Homo sapiens: one gene and its partner. Each later gene encodes a partner of the first gene's protein in a complex. Each region holds a gene or a part of one and is shown in the gene's direction. Other genes may lie near its edges.

The links. Proteins that work in one complex are often made in the same cells at the same time.
Region 2: TAF1D (region 1) and TAF1A share a complex: the UniProt entries of both Homo sapiens proteins name them as parts of the transcription factor SL1/TIF-IB complex.

Annotation. Positions count from the first base shown.
Region 1 is NC_000011.10:93,734,912-93,738,497, reverse strand, and holds the end of TAF1D (TATA box-binding protein-associated factor RNA polymerase I subunit D), read left to right. Parts: coding exon 1-389; intron 390-1,258; coding exon 1,259-1,434; intron 1,435-1,746; coding exon 1,747-1,804; intron 1,805-2,193; coding exon 2,194-2,337; 3' UTR 2,338-2,931; downstream 2,932-3,586. UniProt on the Homo sapiens protein: Component of the transcription factor SL1/TIF-IB complex, which is involved in the assembly of the PIC (preinitiation complex) during RNA polymerase I-dependent transcription.
Region 2 is NC_000001.11:222,583,334-222,587,090, reverse strand, and holds part of TAF1A (TATA box-binding protein-associated factor RNA polymerase I subunit A), read left to right. Parts: intron 1-2,793; coding exon 2,794-2,963; intron 2,964-3,757. UniProt on the Homo sapiens protein: Component of the transcription factor SL1/TIF-IB complex, which is involved in the assembly of the PIC (pre-initiation complex) during RNA polymerase I-dependent transcription.

The DNA of each region.
Region 1 (3,586 bases):
ATAACTCTTCTGATAGCAGCTTATTTAAAACTCAGTGTATCCCTTACTCACCTAAAGGGGAGAAAAGAAACCCCATTCGAAAATTTGTTCGTACACCTGAAAGTGTTCACGCAAGTGATTCATCAAGTGACTCATCTTTTGAACCAATACCATTGACTATAAAAGCTATTTTTGAAAGATTCAAGAACAGGAAAAAGAGATATAAAAAAAAGAAAAAGAGGAGGTACCAGCCAACAGGAAGACCACGGGGAAGACCAGAAGGAAGGAGAAATCCTATATACTCACTAATAGATAAGAAGAAACAATTTAGAAGCAGAGGATCTGGCTTCCCATTTTTAGAATCAGAGAATGAAAAAAACGCACCTTGGAGAAAAATTTTAACGTTTGAGGTGAGTCAGCATTTTACATACATGGCTACACATAACTCAAGATGCCCAAAATGATTTGTTGGCCAATTTAGAATTGTCTCAGATATACTGGGAACAGACTGTCTGCAATTTTGATACTCTTCTATACTGACTTACCCCTAAAGTCCACCCTATCCTTCAACTGAATCTTGACTTGTATCTCTTAATATAACTACACTTTGCCATATTTAAAAGATAGTGCTCCAAGGCTCTTTGTATAAAATCCTTTGATCTTATCCCATCTCAGGTCTTTAAACACAACCCTAAAACTCAGTGGGGATAATAAAAGCTCACATAACTTGAAATTACTTTTGCAGTAACCTAAACTAAAACCACACATGCCTTATGTTCAGTGGATATATTCTTAAGGCCTAGATGTTTCTAAGCCAATTATCTGAAAAATACGCTAATACTTAGGAGTAGACTTTTTTAAATATTTGAGAGTTGTATGTTGAATGAATTCAGAATTAATTTATGATCCCTTGCCAGAACCTGAAATTTTATTTGGGAGGATTAATACATGTTAATCTCTTCAGTTAATCTCTTAAGTTTAAGGTGATTATAGTAAACATTAGAAATCTTATTCCTGTTTTTACATTTTAAAATGCCTTTAGTAAGTCCCAGACATGACAAGATATGTACTTCACTTTTCCATGTTACCAGCTTAGGTAAATTCATAATTGTAATGTGAATTTTAATAATCAGCATTTGATAAGTCCACAAGTGGGGAGTAGTTAAGATAGCAAATTCAGAGTCTTTGCTAAGGGGGGGCATTGCCCTTTTTGAACATAGGCACCTGCTGGGTCTTAAAAATAAAATCTCGACATACTTATGGTGTTTTTAATATATAGCAAGCTGTTGCAAGAGGATTTTTTAACTATATTGAAAAACTGAAGTATGAACACCACCTGAAAGAATCATTGAAGCAAATGAATGTTGGTGAAGATTTAGAAAATGAAGATTTTGACAGTCGTAGATACAAATTTTTGGATGATGATGGATCCATTTCTCCTATTGAGGAGTCAACGTAAGTGGAATCATATGAAATACTTTGGTAATAGGTTATAAATTAAATTTCTATGTTAATTGCTTCATATTTTGCCTTTAATATAGTTATACTTAAATAATGAACAAAGATACAGAGTATGACAATTGGGATTATTACAGTTGAGCCAAGCTTGGCACACCGTTCATCTAGAATTCTCCAGAACACAAAATTCTCAAATTTTGTGTTTCCTTTGACTAGTATTGCAGTTTCAGTTATATTTCAGAGTGGAATATACAACTAATTAGGTCATCGAAGATTCTGTCATCTCGATGATAAATTTTAATATTACAGAGCAGAGGATGAGGATGCAACACATCTTGAAGATAACGAATGTGATATCAAATTGGCAGTAAGTGACTTATTTTTTTCCTATTCCATTTTGGGAAGGCAGGAGTTGGTTGATACAGAAGGAATTATATTTAGTTTTTCTCTTACACTTCATTTAACTTTTGAAAAGCTCTATAAGTTTACTGCAGGAAATGCAAGAAGGAAAATAATTTTTTAGAGACTTGATAAAGAACATGGGGTTTTCAGTACTATTTTTAATAAGTAGCATTCTGATACATATTATTGCTAGTTAGGATGTCAAATGAAAAAATAAGCAATGTTAATTTGGATTTTTAACATCTACATGTAGTCTCTAGGTTATCTGAAGTAATCCAGGGCATTCAGCTATATGTAATTACTAAACTATTTGAGTTATTGCTTAATCCATGATTTTTTGTTTGTTTTATGCAGGGGGATAGTTTCATAGTAAGTTCTGAATTCCCTGTAAGACTGAGTGTATACTTAGAAGAAGAGGATATTACTGAAGAAGCTGCTTTGTCTAAAAAGAGAGCTACAAAAGCCAAAAATACTGGACAGAGAGGCCTGAAAATGTGACAGGATCATGAATGTCAAAGGTGAAGCATATAGAAAAAACGACTTCATAGAAATGAATAAAGATAAATGTGGATATATGTACCAGTCTGGTGGTGAAGAAATTCTGAAACCCAGAACTTTATAACAAGAAAAAAAATTTTTAACCCTGTGAAGAAGTTTGTGAAAGAAACTTGTGAAGTAGTAATAATTAGAAAAAAAACCATTAAAACACCAGAGAAAATACATAGAAAAATTTGAGAAATTGTCATTTGATTTCTGAATAAGAGCTTACAGGTGTCCTGTGAGTATTGAAACAATGAAATGTAGTGATTTTAATTTTGAAAAGAAAATCTTAAAGTAACTTGACACCCAACCATCTTGAAGAGGGGATTTGAAATGCTGTAATTTTATCCCAGCTTTGTTCAGCCATGACAAGTGACCTGTCAGATGCTTAGTATTGTAATAACCTCATTTCCCTTTCCAAATTTAGAGTATCTTTAATACTATTTTTTTTAGACAGAGTCTCGATCTGTCACCCAGGCTGTAGTGCAATGGCCGCAGTCTTGGCTTACTGCAACCTCCATCTCCCGGGTTCAAGCGATTCTGCCTCAGCCTCCTTAGTAGCTGGGATTACAGGCGTTAGCCAGCACACCCAGCTAGTTTTTGTTTTTTTAGTAGAGACAGGCTTTCACCATGGTCTCGAACTCCTGACCTCAGGCGATCCGCCTGCCTTGGCCTCCCAAAATGCTGGGATTATAGGTGTGAGCCATGGCACCTGGCCTAATACTACTTTTAACTACCATTTTCACTTTTTATTAGTTCAAGAAAAGGCATACACATTTATTCAACATGTATACCTGGGGAGAACCAGTCATTACCCCGATGTTCATTATTTTGATCACCACGATAGAGCTGACTACTCTGCTATGTAGTGCATTTTGGGACTGCACTTATGTATGTTTTTGTTTAACGTGGACAAAGACTTACAGATAGGTGCAAAAAATAAATCCTCTTTTGCAACCCAGAACTCATTGTTCAGTATGAGTTTTGATACATATAAGAAGGGATATTATGATACCTGAGACAGTTGATTGATGGGAGTATTGATAGCCATAAAGGTTGGTTCCAGGCCAGGTGCAATGGGTCAAGCCTGCAATCCCCACACCAAGGTGGGAGTATTGCTTGAAACCAGGAGTTCAAGACCAGCCTAGGCAAGAAAGTAAGAAACACATCTCCACAAAAATTTAAAAATTAGCTGGGTACTGGGGCA
Region 2 (3,757 bases), on another chromosome or scaffold:
GGAACAAACTAGTAATTTAAATTTCCTATAGTTAAGTCATACTTGGGTATGTTTCTGTTACCAGTGTTCTATAGAAAGTCTGAGTCAGTCTGCAAGCAGATAGGTTTAAGACCAAAGACCAAAATTTACATGCTTAGGAATATTTTATATGTCATGGATAGCCTGTTAAACCGAAAATACTTTTGGTCTGCAATGAGAAAATACTTGCAATTAATATTGACATTGTGCTGGTAATTAACCATAATAGGAAAACAAAATTGCCTAACAATTGTTCTATTTATTTTTTATGCTGGTAGATATCTTTTGGCTTTTTGAAGGGCATGCCCAGCAACCCCCTTAGAATAAAAACTTTGAAGACAGGGCCAGTCTGGATTGAAGCTGTATGATGAGTACCTGCGATAGTGCTTGGGACACAGTGGTGCCCAAAAAATACTTGTTGACAGATTGATAAGTTTCCAGATTCTTTGAGTAGCATATTAGAAGTTAGGTTGATGACACTAGTTCTTTATTGTACATCTCTATTCCATGTAAAAATGTGTTTTCCTTGACAATTTTTTTTTCTTAAAGTCATCAGGATCAAGTAAGACTATCTTTTGCTCATTAAAGAATGAAATGAGAGGAGAACTTTTCCTGAGGTAGCTAGGCTAGGTTGGAAGACAAAAGTATTTTCCAAACATTTAGGTATAGTTATCTAAAGTCAATTTATAATCTCAGTTGTGAAAGCTTGAGCGATAGAAGGGAGCTTAGCCTGAGAACAGTTCTCTCCTTTAGGTAAATAAGGGATGTTTTAAGGACGAGGTGTTTTGTCAGTTTCCTAGGCTAGCTGGCAGGTATTGCCACTGATGCCGAGCAGCTTTGGTGTAGATCTTATAAAATGCAGCTTCTGATTGAGAGAGCTGGGCATAGTACTCTGTAGTTGTAATGAGATTCCAGGTGATACTTCTGCTGCATGCCAGGACCACATTGAGTAGCAAGGGCAGGTCCCCAGGTGATTTGTATGTACATTCAAAAGTCTGAGAACACTAGTCTAGCACAGTAGTCTTCAAACTTTTCACTTTTGTATCCCCTAGTTTTTTCTGAAAAATTGAGTACTACCTTGCATAGTTTTAAGGAATCATCTGAAAAAATTTTATTGTATGTTTAATATTTGCAAGAGATAAAATTTCCAGCATGTTGGTATTTTTAAATGACTATATATTACTTTATATGTGATGGAGTCCAAATAGCACAGGAATGGCATAGGGTTTTAATACCTTGCGTTATTCATTTTAAAAAAAATTATGAACAAGCTTTTAATAGATGGACATTTTATGTTCCTCTTTGTTGTACTTCTTGCAATAAAAGTATGTATCAATATTTATACTTTTTTTGTTTATATCCTGTAAGTTTTAAGAATTAAAACTTTTTCTAGGTTGAGACATTGCTATCATTAATAGTTGTACACAGCTGATCAATATAACGTGTATTAAACGTGTTGTTGGCCAGGTGTGGTGGCTCATGCTCATAATCCCAGCACTTTGGGAGGCCAAAAGGAAGGATCACTTGAACCCAGGAGGTCTAGGCTATGGTGAGCTGTGATTGTGCTAGTGCGGTCCAGCCTGGGTGACAGAGCAAGACTCTTTTTTTTTTTTTTTTAATAAAGTTATCTAAAACTTTTCCCCAATTTTTTATGTATTTGTGGGTGACTTTTATGTATTTCTAGAATGAGAAAACATTTAGCATTGATTCTGCTATTTTTTTTAATTGACATAAATTCTGAGAAACCTTAGTCACATAAGTAAGTAGATGGCAGTGAATGGAGTTTAATTATAGCCGTGTATCAGGTCTGTGAATTTTTTCTAAATTATTGATGAAAAATTGCATAATGATTTATTGTAAAAAATTACGTTGTTCTGCAGTTTTGATGAGCAAAGAATTGGGAATTGCCTAACTTGCAAAAGGAGATGTTAGAGTTATTTACTTTTTCAACACCTGTGTTTTCACCTTCAGATAGTGTGTAATGATTTTGATTGTGAAGCTTTGACTATGTAGGCACAGCTGTCTAGGAGATTAACTTGTGGAAAGAGTATGTAAGGAAATCAAATATCTGCAAGTTAATTGTTTTAAAAGTATCTTTGTAAAGTACCTGTTGGTCTTTGTGTACTTACTGGGGTACAATTACCCAGCTGGACTAGAGGGGTCTCATAGTTACGTGGGAAGATAAGAAGATGTAGCAATGTAACTAGTCATTCATATAATAGCACTGTATCTAAGCCCAAATGTTCTTAACATTGGGATTGCCAATACTTTAGAGATATAAATGCTAATTTTTGCAACTGTTTTAATCTCATTTGTATATAATATCATTGAGTTACTAGGAATTTGGTCCTTAAAAAATAAAAGCCCACTTGGGGTTTGCAGAACATGGGTAGGTAATAAAGACCATGTTTGCCTAGAATGACCCTGACATTTTACCCATTCTAAATACCTGGGACTGTGCTTTTGGGGGCCTGTTTGAGAGATTCTCCGCAAATTATTTGGTACAAGGATGAAAGGATGATTGAATCAGATTTAAAGGATCTGGTGACTCTAGTAGCCCCAAAACATCAAATTAGAAATGTTTTTATCTGCTAAAAATAATTAATATAATGTAGAAGGGTTTGTTTCAAGTGAAGCTGGCTTTGGTACTGGGAATGGGCTGGGTCAAGTAATGCCTACTGTTTACTTGTTAAAACTTCTTATCAGAAGTAAGTTTTTTGAATAGTTGAACTGGAGCCACTTGGATAAAAACTCTCTTCTTTTTCGTTTTTATAGCCATTGGAGGGAAAAGGAGGAAGGATTTTGCTCAGACAACAAGTGCTTGTTTAAGTTTTATCCAAGAAGCTCTGCTGAAGCACCAATGGCAGCAAGCTGCAGAATACATGTACAGTTATTTTCAGACCTTGGAAGATTCAGATAGCTACAAAAGGCAGGCTGCACCTGAGGTAAATAAAATTTGAGTTTGCTGGAAGAAATGATAGATTCCCAGAAGTTTATGCCTACAGCTTCACCTACAGTAGCTTTTACAGAATCTCAGTGATTTTGCTAAAAGCTACTAAAACTACTTTTGAGTGGAGAGTTTGTATTGGGACCTTTTTTGCACACTTCTTTTTACCTCTTATTTTAAAGGGGACTAAAATGTTCATTCCAATAATTCTTCCTTTTCCCCCCTCTTTATGGATGTTTCCCATCATCATGTAAAAATTTTGTTATTCTATCTTTTTTTTTTTTTTTTGAGACGGAGTCTTGCTCTGTCGCCAGGCTGGAGTGAAGTAGCGCGATCTCGGCTCACTGCAATCTCTTACCTCCTGGGTTCAAGTGATTCCCCTGCCTCAGCCTCCTGAGTAGCTGGGACTACAGGCATGTACCACCACGCCCGGCTAATTTTTTGTATTTTGGTAGAGACGGGGTTTCACCAGGTTGGCCAGGACGGTCTCAATCTCTTGACCTCGTGATCCGCCTGCCTCGGCCTCCCAAAGTGCTGGGATTACAGGTGTGAGCCACCATGCCCAGCCTATTCTATCTTAAAATCATCTCTTGACCCAAACTTCCCCCATAGACTATACTTCATTGTTTTACTCTCTTTCAGCAAAACTTCTTGAAAGAGTTGTTCTCTTTTTCCAACTAGAGTGATCCTTTTTTTTTTCGTTTTATCAAGACGTTTTTTATACGCCATCACCCACTTAAATTGTACAATTCAATGTATTTTCATACATTTACAGAGTTGTGCAACCAACCA